2 linked regions of the Homo sapiens genome follow. The protein of the gene in region 1 interacts with the protein of each later gene in a biochemical or structural test. Each region holds a gene or a part of one and is shown in the gene's direction. Other genes may lie near its edges.

The links.
Region 2: the proteins of ACTR2 (region 1) and ERCC6 form a complex in vitro, tested with the Homo sapiens proteins (one large-scale study listed by BioGRID).

The regions. Positions count from the first base shown.
Region 1 is NC_000002.12:65,248,059-65,251,877, forward strand, and holds part of ACTR2 (actin-related protein 2), read left to right. Parts: intron 1-2,968; coding exon 2,969-3,041; intron 3,042-3,819. UniProt on the Homo sapiens protein: ATP-binding component of the Arp2/3 complex, a multiprotein complex that mediates actin polymerization upon stimulation by nucleation-promoting factor (NPF).
Region 2 is NC_000010.11:49,528,836-49,532,654, reverse strand, and holds part of ERCC6 (DNA excision repair protein ERCC-6), read left to right. Parts: coding exon 1-112; intron 113-1,814; coding exon 1,815-1,935; intron 1,936-3,819. UniProt on the Homo sapiens protein: Involved in repair of DNA damage following UV irradiation, acting either in the absence of ERCC6 or synergistically with ERCC6. Involved in the regulation of gene expression.

The DNA.
Region 1 (3,819 bases):
CAGAAGATGAGGTCGAGTAAGTAATATTGGTGCCTTGTAGGCTCTAATTAGGAATTGGGCGGCTGGAAGTGGTGGTTCAGGCCTGTAATCCCAGCACTTCTGGGAGGCCGAGGTGGGCGGATCACGAGGTCAAGAGTTCGAGACCAGCCTGACCAACATAGTGAAACGCCATCTCTACTAAAAATACAAAAATTAACTGGGCATAGTGGTGCGTGCCTGTAATCCCAGCTACTTGGGAGGCTGGGGCAGGAGAATCGCTTGAACCCAGGAGGCAGATGCTGCAGTGAGCCGAGATTACACCACTGCATTCCAGCCTGGGCGACAGGGTGAGACTCAGTCTCAAAAAGAAAAAAAGGGAATTGGGCTTTTACTGTGGGTGAAATATGGGGCTGTTACAGGAAAAGGAGATGCTCAGATTTAGATTTCTCTTGTGTTGTGAGTATCCCACAAGGAGGCAAAGATAGAAGAGTTGGAGACTTTTTCAGTCATTTAAGCAAAAGATAATGATGGTTAGGATTGAAGTAGTAGTAGTAGAGATAGTGAGAAATTACCAGATTATAGGTCTGTTTTGAAGGTAGGGCTATAAATGATACGGTTCAACAAAGAAGAGGGTAGACAGTGGTGAAAAGGCCAAGGACCAGAGAGATAGGAGGAGCCAGCAGAAGGAGATTGAAAACGTTATTGAGGCCGGGCTAGGTGGCTCCCAGCACTTTGGGAGGCCAAGGCGGGTGGATCACTTGAGACTAGGAATTTGAGACCAGCCTGGCCAACATGGCAAAACTCCGTCTCTACTAAAAACACAAAATTAGCTGGGCATAGTGGTGCACGCCTGTAATCCCAGCTACGCAGGAGGCTGAGGCAGGAGAATTGCTTGAACCCAGGAGGTGGAGGTTGCAGTGAGCTGAGATCACCCCACTGCACTCCAACCTGAGCGACAGAGCGAGACTCTGTCTCAAAAAGAAAAAAGAAAAAGAAAAAAAAAGTTAATGAAATAATGAAATAAGCAGTTACAGAGGAAAGAGAGAGCAAGAGAGCTATGATCCTCATAGTTTAAATAAGTAATTTTTCAAGGTTCTTTTATTTTTGTATATATGAAGTAGAAATTTAATAACTTCTGTAGCTTTCCAGTTACTGTTTAATGTACATATTTTGTTTACGAATATGTTTAAATGTTGATGGAAATTTTTGAAAGGGTTTAGAAGAAAATGTTGTTAGTATTTTTAAAGCCTGTATTAAAACTCAGTTTTTGTATTAAGTGTTTTGAAAATCTAAGATCATGGTTTTAAAGAATCCATATGATTTCTTATGGCTTATATTTTAATATTCTTATTTGTTTATGACTACAAATATGTCTATGACTGATAGTGTCCTACCTTAATCTCATTAACATGCTTTCACATTGGTATGTGCATATATATGATCATTCTTCCATTTTCATCCCTGTGGAGGTGGAATAAAGGATGATGGAATAAAATACTATTCAGACTATCTAATTGCTTAATTGATGAGTATGTGTTTCAGAGTTGTAGAATTTAAATTCTGTGTAATTTTCATTGTGGTCAGTTGTAAAATTTCTAAATATTTAGATATTCAGAGTGATAGGCAACCCTACCAGTCAAGGGGTGCTCAGTCAAGATCACCAAAAAAAAAATCATGCAGGATGTTCCCAGCTGACCTGGGCTACAGAGAATGAACATGTGTGTGACCAGTGAGGGCAAAAAGGAAAGAACTCCTCCTTCCAGGGTAGTTCATTTGGAGGTTGTAATTACAGTCTTGATTCAAGTAGGGACTGGGCTCAGCAGCTAAGCCATTTCTGTATCTTCCAGCAATCAGGAATTAACCATTGATTTTTGTCTTTGCCGTGGCATTTTACTGGGTTTTTTATTTTTTCTTTCTTTCTTTCTTTTAATTTTTAAGCTGCTCAGGGTAGACAGAGCTACACTCTTGGCCCAGATTGAGGGAGGGGGTACGAGGCTCTGTAAAGCAATTTCTATATTTTGTCTTCGAATTAAAAGATATTTCCCGGCCGGGTGCGGTGGCTCACGCCTGTAATCCCAGCACTTTGGGAGGCCGAGGCAGGCGGATCATGAGGTCAGGAGATGGAGACCATCCTGGCTAACACGGTGAAACCCTGTCTCTACTAAAAATACTAAAAATTAGCCGGGTGTGGTGGTGTACGCCTGTAGTCCCAGCTACTCGGGAGGCTGAGGCAGGAGAATGGCGTGAACCAGGGAGGTGGAGGTTGCAGTGAGCTGAGATGGCACCACTGCACTCCAGCCTGGGCGACAGAGCAAGACTCCGTCTCAAAAAAAGAAAAAAAAAAGATATTTCCCTGGCTGGATGTGGTGGCTGACACCTGTAATCCCAGCACTTTGGGAGGCCGAGGTGGGTGGATCATGAGGTCAGGAGTTCGAGACTAGCCTGGCCAACATAGTGAAACCCTGTCTGTACTAAAAATACAAAAATTAGCCAGGCATGGTGGTGCATGCCTGTAGTCCCAGCTACTCAGGAGGCTGAGGCAGGAGAATCAGTTGAACCCTGGAGGTGGAGGTTGCAGTGAGCCAAGATTGCGCCACTGCACTCCAGCTTGGGCAACAGAGTGAGACTTCATCTCAAAAAAAAAAAAAAAAAAAAAGAATTTCCCTTAAGGGATATCAATTAAGAAAGTCTTGTTCAATACAGAGAGCTTTCTTTCACACTAATTAGTCATTAACTAATACACTAAGAAATCTTTGCTTTGTCACGCTTATGAAATGCTTGGGGACTTAGAAATCTGTCTTCAGATTTGGAGCTCTGTGGCAGCAGGACTTCAATAAGAAATAAGAGGAGCTGATGAAAATGGAAGACTATTTCAGGTCCATTTGATTCTATTTTGGGCAATTAATTCACTCTGTGACCATGAGGAAAACATTTATTTATTATGTAATTTTCTAAATACCAGTTTTTTTCTTTCTGTCTGCATTTACAGGTAATGTTTGAAACTTACCAGTTTTCCGGTGTATATGTAGCCATCCAGGCAGTTCTGACTTTGTACGCTCAAGGTAGGTTAAGCTTAACTGTTAGAAAAAACACTTCATCAAACATTTATTATGTATGTTTTATGTCAGAGAATTTGGTTTCTCAATAAGTTATAAGCCCCAGAAAACTACATTATTTATATACCACACTTTGAAATATTTTCAGTTTTTAAAATTTGTGAAATAAGATTTTATATACATTTTTATTTGCTAAATATGTATTTAAGGTAAAAAAAAAAGGCTTAAAGACTTATTTTTTAAAAAATAGGATATTCTCTCTTTTAAGCTATTTAAATTTTTTTTGAGACAGATTTTCGCTTTTGTTGCCCAGGCCGGAGTGCAATAGTGCAATCTTGGCTTACCACAACCTCCACCTCCTGGGTTCAAGTGATTTTCCTGCCTCAGCCTCCCAAGTATTTGGGATTACAGGCATGTGCCACCACACCTGGCTAATTTTGTATTTTTAGTAGAGATGGGGTTTCTCCATATTGGTCAGGCTGGTCTCAAACTCCTGACCTCAGGTAGTCCGCCCGCCTCAGCCTCCTGAAGTGCTGGGATTACAGGCATGAGTCACCGTGCCTGGCATAGCTATTTTAATTTTTTATGCATGGAATTTGTCCCCAGAATTGGCTTGAGTTAAAAAAAATACGCAGAGATTCAAAAAGGTAGCATAAAATCATGCCTGTCAAATATATAGTAGATTAAAAAGGAGAAGGTAAACATTTGGGAGTGCATTTCTAACTTTTGAGGTGGGTTTAATGGAGGGGACTACTTATATATTCTCTTGATATTGCCATTAGCA
Region 2 (3,819 bases), on another chromosome or scaffold:
TGCTGGAACAGGGAGTGCTTCAGCAGGTGGACAATGCCATCCATGAGGCCAGCCGTGCCTCCCAGCTCGTTGACGTGGAGAAGGAGTATCGGTCGGTCCTGGATGACCTCACGTGAGTGCAGCCCATCTTCTTCCTTTCAAAGTGGTGGTAAAACATGACAGGGATATTCAGGTAATGGAAAGCTCTAGTATTCCAGAAGTTTAGGAGATGTGTAGAACCTTTTATTTGGAGGACAGAGTCAATAAGGGCAGTCCTCAACCTCATCTTTGAGTCCCAGCCCTTCCCCTTAGGAGTGGCATTGTACATGGTAGTTAGAGTCTCTGTCCAGCTCGTGAAAGCCAGTTGCATGCATAATGTCCAGAAGAGAAGGGCTGTTCACCAGCATGTGCACAAAGTGATCTCAGGAGAGGTGCACCTAAATTCAGGTGTTTCCTATTCGAGATGCCAGGAATACATTGCGCCCCCTTCACATTTTTCTCTGTGCGGTAGCTTCTTTCTAGCTTACTGTCCCCAAACTTAGTGTTCAGTCCTTGGGCAATTTTTCAGATTTGCATTTTTAGAAATAATAAAGACTCCCCGGTTTTCTTTTCTTCCATCCTTGTTCTGACTCTGGAAATGGAGATTTTATTTGTGTCTTAGAGAGGGAGAAGACTTGAGCTGTTTTGAGCATAGCACGTTAATGGGGAAGAAGGGGAGGCTGTAGACCTGAGCAAGGGTAGGAGGTGAGGACAGGAGAGGGGAAGTGGGAGGGGTTGAGCTCACTTATCATTGCTGCTTGGCCCCCGTTGGGCAGTGTTCTGGGCAGTGTCAGGTAAGCAAGAAAGAAGGCGAGGGCTGAACGGGATGGAGGATGGAGCAGTGTCACAGAGGATAGCTGGGGAGGGTGGAGTGTGGCGCTGTCATGAATGTGGTTGTTGGTACTTCAAAGACATGTTTTCTGCTAACCATTCCCTGGTGTGTTCTTTTGGCCTCCTCAGGAGCAGGTGCTCGTTCATGGTTATAGTCTGAGTGTTGAGGACCTCAACTCTTTGTAATGATACTTTTACATTTGATCTTGGAAATGTGTCCTCTTTCTCCAGAGGTGACAGAGGAGAGTTGTGGGGTCTCCATGCAGAGTGATGCTAGATGGCTGGTGGCATGTGGTGTCTCAGCCAGTAATACGCATTGTTTATCCTGTAATCCACAGAGGATACAAACAGCAAATTACACAATCATCAAGAAGATTGAATTTGTGTTTTGAAAATTGGAAGCTACAATTCTATGGTGTCTATTTTAGGAGTAATTTATTTTAAATTGATTTGTTTTCTTTGCACCACAAAGTTTAGTGCTGTAGTAAGTGAATCTTCCATTTATGTAGAAGAAAAATATTGTCGCAGATGTGTGATTTATATAAAAAAATGTTTAAGCATATTTAGGATGCTTCCAGACTTTGGAAGGCTTCCGTAACGGGCTTAAAAAACCCATGTATGCATTTTTTCATGTAAAAGGACAACTTATTGCACATTGTTCTAGCATAGTGTGTTGAATAAAGTAGGCACTTAAATAATGCTTGTAGAATGACTGAAGCAGCTTACAAATGGGAATGAGCTGATCTAAATCAGCTAGATAAAAGAAAACACTAGCAGTCATCTTAAACCTCTAATGATCCTACAAGTTTTATTTGTGGCCAATAAGGGTATGTATTCTGGTTTAGTTTCCTTTATCTTTTAGTTAATAAGAAGTAAAAGGGACATGTTTTTAGCATTTTTCTCTTTATATTATGCTATAAAAATGTTATCAGAGTGCAAAATAGACAATTTATCTTATTTTTCAGGTCATGTACGACATCCCTAAGGCAAATCAATAAAATTATTGAACAGCTTAGCCCTCAAGCTGCCACCAGCAGAGACATCAACAGGAAACTAGATTCTGTAAAACGACAGAAGTATAATAAGGTGATTCAGAATAACATTCAGTATTGCATTTTTGAAAAAGTCATCATTTAGGGGCACTTAATTTAGGAAGTATTTTAAAAAGTGCTTATAAGATGTGAAGCAAATACTTATAATTACAATAGAGAAATTTTGGGTTTCTTTTGTATGTTTAATCTTTCTGCTGTTTTCCTTTAACATCCCATTCTATTGCATTTAAAAAAACACACATACATAGACACACACATCCATACGTATACAGTTGCTCCTTGATTTACAACAGGGTTACATCCCGACAAACCCATCGTAAATTGAAAATATTGTTAGTCAAAAATGCATTAAATACACTGAAAAACCTATCTTAAAGTCAAAATATTGTAAGTCAAACCATAGTTAAGTCCAGAGGCTCCTCAGTTTATAATGGGGTTATGCCCTGATAAACCCATCACAAAGTTGAAAAATTGCAAGTCAGACCATGATAAGTTGGAGACCATCTGTGTATTTGAGAAAAGTTCCTTTTTGGTGTTGCTTGCCTCACTTGGGCGCACTTCCTTAGTTTTCCTGCATCACCATTTCTTTGGCCTGGCTTAGGGTCACACTGGCCTCAGTCTCCTGGTCTCCTGTGAACTCTTTTCTGCTTAGCCCTTGCTTCCTCTAATTGTCTCCACTCTGTTTCTTGGTGGTGCAGCCATTGACCCTCACACACCTTTGCTGACAGTTGCGAGAGCTTGGCCCTTCCTCCCACCTTGGGTGTTACAGTCAGCACCCAGCCACACTGGGGTTGTACTTAGCTTTGGAAAACTTAAGGGTAGGGAATATTTGTTACTTAGGATATTATTTTTATGAAGTTTGAAACTTTTTTTAAGGATTTATGTACAGCTTTGTGAGGTCTGAAACATTTTTTATGATTTATGTACCCCTTTGTGAAAATACATTGCAATAGATAGGAATGACTAGCTGTAACCATTTCAGTTCTGCCATCCCAACTTGTGCTTACAGTTGATTCACTGCAGTGAGTAGAGTCCTTGCATCTTTTCTTTAAGCTCTCCAGGGGCAGGGCTGTGCGTTGGTTCAGTTCACGTGGCCCTCCTTTTATTATACTTTCCACTCACCAGTCTGTTACCTGCACTACCCCATCTTCTCTCACTTGCTTCCAGAATAGCAGCCCAAAGGTCAAAGCTAGCAGTTGCCCAAGGCAGGTGGGTCCTCCCAAATCAGAGAGAGGACATCTGGTCTCTTGTGGGAGCATGTGAAATTGATGTGCAGAGACCTTCTTGGGCTTCTAGTGGGCTGGAATTTCAAGGGTGTAGAGCATCAAACTTGAGACCACTTCAGGTCCTAGTCTAACTTAATTATGCATTCTTGTCTTTAGCAGCTCTTTGATGGTTAGAGGTAGACTATTCAGAGGGAAAGTGCTTTAGACAGAATGTTGCTGAGAGAAAAACTGAGAAAAAACAAATTGCAAGTCATTGCAGTGTGGCATTTATGTTCAGGATTTCCCCTTGTCCCACACTCGTATTTGAAGTTGAAACATTCTTGACCTTGGAAAGATGAACCAGGTACCACAAGCCCAGTTCATTGGGCCTCCCCAGTGAAGCCCAAGGGCACATATCTGAGTTCTGGTGATGTGGAAGGGAACAAGACAAAGAGGAGTCTGGCGTGGCCAGGGTGGAGAGGCATGGCAAGATATATTTTTTTCTTAAAGCTTTTTGATTAGGTAGAATACTAAAAGGACAGTCATAAATATAGTAGGTTATCAAAGGAGACTAACTTTTTCAATTGAACATTTGTGTTTTTATTTCTTATCTTATGGCCTGTTGACTTCCATAGCCCATTGGTTCTGAATCAGAAATACAGAGTAGTTTAGGGATTTGCCCAGTGTGTAAGGGGGAAACCAAGTAGAACAAG